3 linked regions of the Homo sapiens genome follow. The protein of the gene in region 1 purifies or fractionates together with the protein of each later gene. This does not show direct contact. Each region holds a gene or a part of one and is shown on either strand. Other genes may lie near its edges. The genes, in order: RUVBL1, DPCD and ACTL6A.

What was found.
Region 2: the proteins of RUVBL1 (region 1) and DPCD purify together in Homo sapiens (affinity purification with mass spectrometry; 7 studies listed by BioGRID and IntAct, with this or other methods). This does not show direct contact.
Region 3: the proteins of RUVBL1 (region 1) and ACTL6A purify together in Homo sapiens (affinity purification with mass spectrometry; 11 studies listed by BioGRID and IntAct, with this or other methods). This does not show direct contact.

What each region holds. Positions count from the first base shown.
Region 1 is NC_000003.12:128,099,707-128,103,358, forward strand, and holds part of RUVBL1 (ruvB-like 1), read right to left. Parts: intron 1,943-3,652; coding exon 1,853-1,942; intron 1,039-1,852; coding exon 889-1,038; intron 1-888. UniProt on the Homo sapiens protein: Possesses single-stranded DNA-stimulated ATPase and ATP-dependent DNA helicase (3' to 5') activity; hexamerization is thought to be critical for ATP hydrolysis and adjacent subunits in the ring-like structure contribute to the ATPase activity.
Region 2 is NC_000010.11:101,594,751-101,598,402, reverse strand, and holds part of DPCD (protein DPCD), read right to left. Parts: intron 1,811-3,652; coding exon of another isoform or gene 1,764-1,810; exon of another isoform or gene 389-1,763; intron 1-388. UniProt on the Homo sapiens protein: May play a role in the formation or function of ciliated cells.
Region 3 is NC_000003.12:179,569,292-179,572,943, reverse strand, and holds part of ACTL6A (actin-like protein 6A), read right to left. Parts: intron 3,121-3,652; coding exon 3,044-3,120; intron 2,878-3,043; coding exon 2,703-2,877; intron 1,422-2,702; exon of another isoform or gene 1,174-1,421; intron 1-1,173.

The sequences.
Region 1 (3,652 bases):
CACTAAATGCTGAATAGCTAAAGGCAGCAAATGTTTCCTGTCTGGTCCTCAAAACTGCCTTGCCAAGTAGGAGGGAACTCAAAACCGAACCCCAAACCACAGAAAACCCAGAGACCCAAAGTGACAAATTAACCAAGCTGGTCAGTGATGGAGCAACACAGTTCCTGACTTCTGACTCCCAGCCCAGCACTCTTCTCAGGTCAAGGGCTCCCAGGAGGTCAGTTTGGGGATGGCCATTTCACCAACCAAGGGGACCTGTTGGTCCAAGATGAGTCTTCAGTAATCTCTTGACCAAAGCTCCAAGGAACAAAACACCCACGGATCAAATTTCAAGTCAGAAAACAAACTATTCCCTAATAGTGACTATTCACTATTTCCTAGAAATGTCATATAGTGATAACATCCTTTCCTGCACTTTACTAGCCAAGGCATAAGTATCCATCTGTATGAGAAGCAGACAACAGTACCAGCTCAAAGCTAAAACACTGTGGCTTTTGCTAAGCAGGGGGAAAGAAAGAGCTTTGTTAGGCTTTCTGAAATCCTGTAAAGGGCTCATAGAACACTCCTGCCCTCCTGCCATTAACACCCAGAAAATCCCAGGTGTGAGCCCACTGCTGGAGTGAAGCCATGGAGGAAGCTGGCTAGCTCAGGGCCAGAGGCTTGGCTGGGATAAGAAACAATACACATGAAATCATCTGTGACTAGAGCATTTGAATGGGAACAAAGGAGTCCCTCGTAGCTCATGTCGATGTTAATTGCTGAACATTACAGATAGAAAAGGACCGTCTACCTCAAGAAAGGCAGCAAGACTCTGACAATTCATTCCCAGATCTCCACACACATACAAAAGGGCTAATGTGCCAGATCACCCAGGCATCGAGGCAGTACCTGGGGCCGCGCATTAGCCACATCCAAGTCATGCAAGGTCACATCTTGGATGATTTCTTTCTTTTTGTGCACATCCCCTTTTGGCAAGGGGACATACTCTTCAGCTTCAAGGTCGAATTCTGTGGCATAGGTATCACACCTGCCCTGCCTCTGCAAAAAGAGAGAAACATGAGTGCCTGGTAAGTTTTCACTGCCAAGTCCCCAAATGGCACAGGGCTAAGTGAGATAAAGGTCTCAGTTCCCACTGCAGGCCTGACAGCCTACTTGACAAACTCCAAATATGCCCCACTCCCCTGCTGCCAAGAGAAGGGAGCTATCTGCTCATCGCTGGGCTCCAAAAACTGGGTTGAAAAACACCTGATACTTTCTCCCAAAATCCTTTTTCCCTTCTTTCTTTTAACTGTATGCAATTCCTGATAAAGGCCAAATCCAGTAGATTAACTGGAGGCAGAGGAGCTGCTCAGACTCTTTTGTAGGTGGATGATTTATTGTATGATATGAAGTATTATGCCCATCCATTAAACAGTGAGGAACACTGTACAGGACCCTGAAAATCAGATAGAAAAGAATGCCAACGAATGCAGCGTTCCTTCCCACATGCATATATCTTGGGAAGAAAATACCAAAGAGATAAAAGGAAGATTAAATACACTGCACATTTCAATTTGAAAGTGACTAAAGTTGTTTTGGTTTCTCACCCTGTCCTCCCCCTCTGAACAGGTTTTAGTATTTTTTCTAACAGACTATCTGTTTTAATCGCGAGAAGGTTAAAGAATGAAGATAAAGGGAAGGCAAACTTTATTATACATAAAGGGCCACTAGTTGACCTTCCATCAGCCTCATAACAGACACCAGCCCCTCCCCACACACCCCACACCCTCTGAAGAAAGCAACTCCCTTGTCACTTAGGTCTTCTCATGGCAAACAAATCAGGGACAATGCTGTGTCCCAAGGAAGGCATTACCTTCACGGCCCCACTGTTGGCTTCAATGTAAATCACATCTCCAGCTTCTACTCGCTCTTTCTGCAAACTTTCAAAAATGCTGGGGTCCAGCTAAAAAAAAAAATGTAAATCAGAAGTGTAATACATATTCCATTTCCTTCTGACACCATGTAAGGTACCTTTCCGTAAGGGATCTGAGGTAGCTAGCAGGTGCATGGAGAAAGCCTGTTTTGCGTTTGCATGAATACTGGGACCTGCAGGAGTGTGAATGCATAAGTACCACACAACAGACTGGCTGGGGGACTAAGCACACCAGGGAGAAAATAGGGGGGCCAGCATACCTGCATCCCTATGTAACGAGCATGAGAGGGACACAGGGGACACGTACTCTCCTCTTTCCCTTGATTCCAAAGGCTGTAAACTGGCAGCAGCGCTTTTATAAGGATGGTCCTGGCTGCCGTGAGACGGGTGGGCCCAGCCCCCACTGTCCACAGGACCACAGGCCCTATCACCCCTCTTGAAATCATCATCCCTACTTCACTCCTTCATTTGCCTCACCTCAGGTGGGGTGGAACTTTCCACAACTGAAGTACCTGCCAGCACCTGCTTACCAATCTCAAAGCTGGCATCTTGCAGGGCCTTTGATTTTGGATAAGGTTCTCAGTTCTAAGTTTCCTCATCTATACAACAGCACCCAGGTGCAATCACAGATGTATACAGTAATTCAAAGAAAAACATAAATGAGAATCTTTCCCAAGCCTTTTGACTCACATCCCAGTGTTTGTGCCCTTGGGTCTGCCTGCTTATATCTCCAGGAAAGGAAATAAGCAGATTTGCGGAACTGTTGCTTTTCTCCAGATTCTGGTGACCCTCAGTGATTAATATTCTAGGACAGCTGCCTTTGTAAGGATTCTATAGTTAAACACAAGTTTCTCGAGGTCTTCATGGAGATCTATGTTATACAATGTAGCTATGGTGGAAAAAAAACTTGGGCTTTGCCCAAACAAAATTAAAAAGTGAAAACCCAGGACTTGGTGAAAGAAGCCAGATACAAAAAAAGACATACACTGTATGTTCCATTTATATGAAATGTCCAAAAGAAGGCAACCGAAAGTAGATTAGTAGTTGCCGAGGGCTATAGTTGGAATGGGGAATGACTGTAAATGAGTAGGAGGATTCTTTTTGGGGCGATGAAAATGTTCTGAAATTAAGATTGTGGTGATTGTACAACTGTGAAAATAAATTAAAATTCCTGGAATTGTATACTTAAAATGGGTGAGTTTTATTTAAAATGCTATCTGAATAAAGCTTTTAAAAAACTACCACCACAGCAGCAAACCCAGGGTTCTGCCTCTCCTTAGCTGGGTGGGGACGGCAGACCCTGGCAGAACTGCTGTGAGTCTGTGCGCCTAAGGACAAAAGTGGGTGAGGCCCCCAGGTAAGGCCTGGCAGGAAGGGGTCATGAGTACTAATGGCATTCTCGTTGCTAGAACTCAGAAGACTCCTTCAGACTTGAATATCCACCAAGTATTTGAGCACCTTCTATCCAAATATCTTGTACATATTCTAAAAATACCTAAAAGTATTCATTTTGGAAGAAAAATTTCATCTTCTCCTCTACATTATTTTTGTAAAGAAACTGTACAAAGCAGTGTTACAAATAGCTGAAATTTAAACTGTACGCCTTATTTTATCTGTCCTACATTGGAGAATATACTTCTTTTTTGCCTCAAGCATTTTTATATCGGTTAATTTCCCAAATGAATTGACTGAAGATGTAATTACTGGAAAGGTGGCAGATGCTACTGAGAAATCTAATTA
Region 2 (3,652 bases), on another chromosome or scaffold:
GAAAGTGTTCAATAAGCACATGTAATATTTTGAAAGGTTTCTGTTTTTTTTTAAGTAGCTCAATTTATTTTTTATATTTGGCCTTTAAAGGGTAAGCTTTGATTATCTGAAAAAGTAAATTATGAGGACTACCTCACGACCTAGGGCTGGATAAGTGAGGTGCCCCTGTAAGTCATGGGCCTTGCTAAAATGGGTGTCCTAATGCATAATAATGCACCAAGGTGGCCTGGAGGGACGACAACCACCCCAGGGTTTTCTGTGCACTTTTACTCCAAAAAATTTTGAGTTTTACACAGAAAACTTCCCAAGAAGTACTCAAAGAAGGAAGAAAGTCAGCTGCTGATTTCCTTACTTCTGACCTTAAAAACCACTCAGGGAACTTGACACCTCTGGCTGCTTCACCTTTATTTTTTGTTTAAACACCTTGAGAATTAAATTCTTTGTTAGAATGTAGAAGAAAGTCTCCTTTCCCATTCCCTCTAGAGATAAGACCCAATAAAAGATTTTGGGGAAGTCCTTCTTATTTTTCCTATGCACAAGTGCATGGGTGTGAACACACATGTACAAATGCACACTTTGTCTTGTCTTTCTTGCCCCCGTCTTTGTTTCTGAACTCAAGGACGGCTCCTGCGGCAACAGAAGACTGTTTCCATCTGCTGTCACTCTGATTTGATTATATGTTAAACCCAAACTGGTGTGAGGCAGCTTCCCGGGACGCTGTCATATCTTCCCAGCTGAGCCCCAGCCAGACCTTGGAAAAGAGACTTTCCACCCCGGTGAAGAGTCTGATGGGGAATATATAAAGGAGGTGGCGCCTGGGGGCTTTTTCCTAAATCAGCAGGAAGCAGGCTGATGTCCCAGACTGCTGAAAGGAGGCCCCATCTTTCAGGTGGGCTGGAAAGTAGAAGTCCTAAAGGCCTCTTTCCCCAAAGCTCCAAACCCTGGCCCACTTCCAATGTGGATAATTACATTCCCCTTCCCTAAATGTTCCCTGCAGCTTCAACTGGATGCAGGATTCTTCTTTTCTGCCTTAAAACACTGCAACATTGCTATGTGGCAATTAAACAGCTGCCATGTCCCATCCCAGAGGAGGCCGAAGGGAATCGAGTGGGTCATTTATAAAGCCAGTGAAGTGCTTGGGGATGAAAGTGCTCAATATCCTCCAAATGCAGCCTGGGGTGGTTAGGCTGGCGGTCAAATACCAAAGCAGATTAAGTCGGTAATCCGAATGTAATCGCTGGGGGATGGCCTGCCCTTCAGCCTCAGCCCCCTTGGACATGCTGTGTTCTTCTCAGGCTGGTTTGATGTTCCGATCATTGTTGTGGGGCCTTCAGTTTTTTCCTCTATGAATACATGCAGCAATCATTGTGGGGGGTGGGAATGAATAGCACTGAGAGGGTAGGAAAAAAACAGGACACTAACATGCTTATTAACACCGACGGGAGGAACTCTGTCCCAGACTGACGCACACCTATTGGCAATTCTTCCTCTGTAAATTACTTTGAATTTTTCTAACAGAAAACTGGTTTGGCTAATTATCAAATTTGTATACTTAGCTAGAAAAATGGAAACTATTCCTATTTATTGCCACAAAAACCATGTCCCTACTTTACTTCATAGAATGCACAAGCAAAAGCCAGCTCAACCCCTGGGATTATTTATACTTAAAAATTAATAATGGAGAGTATTTTGCCAGGGCAGCAGTGGTGGATAGGAAGAAGAGTAAGAAAAAGATCTGCTGTTCTAGAGCTGGGCCCAGTGGCTCAAGTGAGGTCCTCCTGTCTGCCCATCAGTCCACACTCAGGCCTTTCTGGGGAAAGAAAAACAGTAAGAAGAAAAGAAAGTTGGATTTAAGTGTTCTCAACTCCCAGCACTATGTTGTTGAGGACTAAAGCATGGGCTCTTAATTGGACAGAACTAGGCTTAAATCCTGGCTTAGAAACTAGCTACATAATTCTCAACAAGGTGCTTAACCTCTTTGAGCTTCCATTTTTTCCAAATGTAAAATGGAGACAAGAGTATCTACCTCATAGGGCTTTAACGAGGACGAGTAAATGAGGTAATTCACGTAGAGCACTTAGCATGGTGCCCAGTAAGAGTCACGCTATTAATATCATTATTAGGTCAACTTTAGCCAAACAGTGTTCTCCTGTGAACAGTCTTCTCCATTTCTGCTTTTAAGAAAGAGGAGTTTGGAAGCCATGGTCTATTCCCCACCTGCCACTAGGAGAAGTGACAGGTTAATAAGGGATATCAGGGCACATGGTGCTACAAATGAAGAAACCTGGACTTGTTTTTAATTTCAGTTTCATATCCAAGCACAACAAAGAGGCCTGGGTTTTATTTGTTTGTTTTTACAGCCGCAGCAGCTATAGCTGTTTTATTTGCTCTGTGTGGAGGAGTAGAGAAGTGGCACGGGGGGCTGGGAGTGAGGAGCTGCGGCTATTCTCTGGCCTGGTTATGGTGGTGGCTAGTCCACGTGACCTCTGCTTTCATAAGTTCTCCCCTGTTAGGCATTCCAAGGCTGTCATCCCCTGGGAGCACTATAAATTACAATGCATTGTGAGGATATTACTACTGTATTGGTTTCCACCGAATCAGTGTCATATGCTAAACACATCAAGATTTTTAATAGCACCAGACTAAACCAACTGGGACTGGAGCCCAAGCAGCTCATAATAAGGAGGGATCAACACTTCACTGTGCGACTGAACATGCGCAGGACAAACATTTTAAGACTGGAGACTGAGGGAATGCAAGCCCGTGTAATCCATGTTGTCGGTTCTAGACATTTATGAGCTGTCAGAAAAAAGGAAAAAGAAATTCCCTCACCAATACTACCTGTCGATCAGGCCCAGGAAGAAATTAAAGCCAAGAATAATGACAAGAAAATAAACCAGCCTGTGATTCCATCATTGGTCTTAGCATTTCAGATGGAACTTAATAAAGAGACCAACTCCCACTGCTGACAGCCTTGGGCCCTGGGTCAAAGAGCCAGCCACCTAGCTCTGGGAAGCTGGTTAATGCTGATGTGCACACCTGGGAACAGAGTGGACAAATCAAATAATTCCCAGAAATCTGAGCTGGAGCCCCTACCCATGAGCCTGTTCTTAGAGGAAAGGCGCTGCAGGAATGAAAGTGACCACGCTGCAAAATCACTGTTTTGACCCTCTTTGACTGAGATGTTCTTCAAAATAAGGACCATATTTTATAGTGTTGCCTTTGAGGCAAGCTCAGAAGCTCTGCCTCTGATACTCGCTTGCTCCTGGTGTGGCTTTAGAAAACAAAACAAACAAACAAAAAAACAAGGAAAAACAAATTGTGAAAGTCTGCCCTTATCCCTCCTAAACCTACAAGGCTCACTTCCAATACCACCTCCTCTGTAAAGTTTTTTCCCAACTGTTTCTCTACATCTTAGAATTACTCCCTCTCTCATTTGTCTGGGGTGAGGGGTGGGGATGAATTTTACTGGTCAAAAGGACTCGCATTCCACTTTTGGTGCCCAGATTATGCTCAGGAACGTTGTTGTCTCGAGGGCTTCCGTCTCTCCCAGCCTCTACATTTGATCTGGGCTCCTACCTCAAGCCTAAGGCTAGGAGTGTTCATTGTGCTTATGTCAGCCCCAAGTATTACTAAAGGCCCACTGGGAGCC
Region 3 (3,652 bases), about 51 Mb from region 1:
TTACAATCTATTTGGAAAAAGACTAAAAGACATGTTAAAAATTCAAAGAAGAGCATCTGTCTTCAATTTGGCTTCCACCTAAACATTCCATTAAAACTACTGACATAAGTCACTAATGACCTTCTTTTTTCTTTTTTTTGAGATGGAGTCTCGTTCTGTCCCCCACACTGGAGTGCAATGGCACAATCTCAGCTCACTGCAACCTCCGCCTCCTGGGGTCAAGCAATTCTCCTCCCTCAGGCTCCCGAGTAGCTGGGATTACAGGTGCCCGCCACCGTACCCAACTAATTTTTGCATTTTTAGTAGAGACAGGGTTTCACCATGTTGGCCAGGCTGGTCTCGAACTCCTGACCTCAGGTGATCCACCCACCTCAGCCTCCAAAGTGCTGGGATTACAGGCGTGAGCCACCGCCCCCAGCCACTAATGACCTTCTACTAGGCAAATTCATGGATACTTAACATTTTTAATCTCATCTGACTTCTCTAAATTATGACAGTATTGCCTACACAAGAGTTTACAAACTTTTCTGTCACAGCCCAAAGAAAAAATGTCATTAATTATATATTTCCACAGGCCCACCTGGATTTTTTTAACTTCTTTCTTAGTGTAAAGCTTTCAATGTCACAGCAGAAAACACCGAGAATAACTGGAATTTTATGCTTCCAGAAACTTTTTCTTTTCTTGTTCTTCCCCTGCTTTTTTTCCTACATCCCTAATTGTTCCCTTTCTTTCTCCTTCAAGGGTACCTTTTATTCTCTATTGGTTAAAATATACAACAAGTTTTTGCTAGAACTCCATCTTCAATCCTCTTCTCATGTTCCAATTTTTTTCAGAGTAATAAAATGCAACTCCATGTCTTAAAATCTTTCTTATAACCTTTTATTCCCGTTTACTGAATTATCACCTGGATGTTCTAAGTACTTTGAACTCAGTGAACCCATTTACTTACTACACATGAAAGAGTTAACACTGCAAGCCTGAGAAAGGCCTGCTTGTAAGGCTGACTCTTAGCTGGTGTCTGGAAACATGACTGGCAAACAGTTCCCTATGTTCATATAAAACTTGTCCCTAAATGGTAAGGGTAGCTCGCTATACCTACACTGTTTATACAATGTGGTTTGTTCTGAACACTTGCTTTCCTTCTGAGAATCTAAAATTTTGTTACATGCCAGGTAGATGGTACCTACATAACCAGCCCTCTGTAAAATCCTTGGGTACTGAGCCTCAGAGTTCTCCTGGAAGGTAACACAGATCATAACTTGTTGCTGGAGGGATTAAGCACATCCTGTGTGACTCCACTGTGAGAAGACTCTCCAAAGCCTGTATCTGGACTTCATCATCCCCTGTCCCTTTTCCCTTTGTCGATTTTGTTTTGTATCTGAATCTTCAGTACAATAAATCTTAGCTGTGAATACAACCATATGCTGAGTCCTGTGAGTGAGTCTTGCTGGTGAATAATTGAACCTGAGAGTGATTTTGGCTATCCCTGATAAGCTTGTTTTTTTTTTTTGTTTTTTTTTTTGAGACAGAGTCTCACTCTGTCACCCAGGTTGGTGTGTAGTCATGAGATCTCAGCTGCAACCTCTGCATCCTGGGTTCAAGTGATTCTCATGCCTCAGCCTCCCAAGTAGCTGGAATTACAGGTGGTACGCATCACCACACCTGTCAAATTTTTGTATTTTTAGTAGAGATGGGGTTTCGCCATGTTGCCCAGGCTGGTCTCAAACTCCTAGACTCAAGCAATCCACCCACAGTCTCAGCCTCCCAAAGTGCTGGGATTATATAGGCGCGAGCCACCACGCATGGCCAACCATGCCTTTTAAAACCGTAACACTTGCTCCTTCCCTTTATATTCCTATCTCAATGCATGGTACTCTCTGTTCAGAGTTACCCCAACCAAAAATCTAGGAAACTTTCTCAACTTCTCTCTTGCTTTCACTCCCTCGATCATTTAGTACCATTTGTCTCCTGGTTACCCTGAAAGTCCCTTCAGAATCTCTACCAGCATTATATAATAGTTTAAACCTTTTTCATTTCTCATCTGGACTCTGACCATCACATCTGTTTAAATTCCTTTGGGGTTATCCTTCAGTCACTAGCTTAATACAACCCTGGGATGGTTTACAAGCCCTTTTATGACTGCTCCCTGCCTACCTTTCCTGCTACTGCTCTCTGCCTACCTTTCCTGCTACTGACCCTAATAAGCCCAATGCTGCAACCATACTTAATTGTATTACATTTTCAAGCACATAAGTTTCTTTCACAATTCCATCCCTTCACACATGCTGGTCCCTTTGCTTTACCCAGCTTTGTCAGCCAAGCTAATTCTTACTCATTGATCAAGATTCATCATGTTACCTCCTTTGTGAAAACCATCACTGACTCCCAACACTAGAGTCAAATACCTCTCCTCTCTAATCCCATTGCTCATTGCACATACCTATATTGTACCACTTATCCCACAGTGTACCATTATTTGTATATATACATCTATTTCCCCCAACTAACTGTAAGCTTTTAATGAAAAGGAACATTTCTTATGCATCTTTGTATTCTCAGTGTCTGGAAATCAGTTTGTGGAATAAAAAACAAAACAAAACAAAAAACCATGGTTGATGTTCAACTTATAGGAAGCTACTACTTTGTATCTAAAATATAACATGTACACTCCATAATCAATTCCATGGGGAAAACATCATACCCATCCCATTTTTTAGAGGTGAAATGGCCTCCATATTCTCCCTCGGAACACGCAGAGCATTAGTATCTATGTAGTAGGTGGGACCGCCTTGTTTGCCTTTATCGCCATCTATTTCCATTAATGTGCTTCCGTCATCTCTTTCTACCACCATACCAATAGCTGTAGGAAAATCCACCTGTAAGAGTCAGAAACATGACATACAAGTTTCACCTTTCATCAAGAAGGCATTTTTTCCCCAATTAATGTATTTTATTATATTTTGTTTTGAATCAGAATTTCTGCATAAATTTAATTTACATGAATGGCTTTACATATCCAATTAACTCTAACATTACACTTACCTTGGGGCAGTCCTCACCAGCATAACCAGCTCTCACAGTATAGGATCCAATGTCAAAAACAAGGGCTCCAACTTCATCTGAAAAGATTAAAGATAATTAGCATTAACAGCTTGCAAAAGTATCATATGAAAATCACAGCTCACTGCAGCCTCAACCTCCTAGGCTCAAGCAATCCTCCCGCCTCAGTCTTCCAAATAGCTGGGACTACAATGAATTTCTTAAATTTTTTGTAGACATAAGGTCTCACTATGTTGCCCAGGCTGGACTCAAACTCCAGGGCTCAAGCAATCCTCTGCCTCAGCATCCCAAAGTGCTGCAGGCATGAGCCACTGCACTCAGCCCAATTATATTCATATTATTACTCACTTGAACCTAGTTTCAAATACACCTTAAAGAATCATTTAATTAAAATATAACAAGGCATACACCGTATTTAAGTAGAGGTTCAATCAGTTAAGAAATGGTACACTAAAACTGGGTAATTTCAGTTTACTTATTAAAGGGAATTATTTGCAAAGATATAGGTGAAATACAGGACAACCAGAAGGGACAGTACAGTACCCCAGTACTATAATGATAACTAATAATAATGGATCCATTGCCATTCTT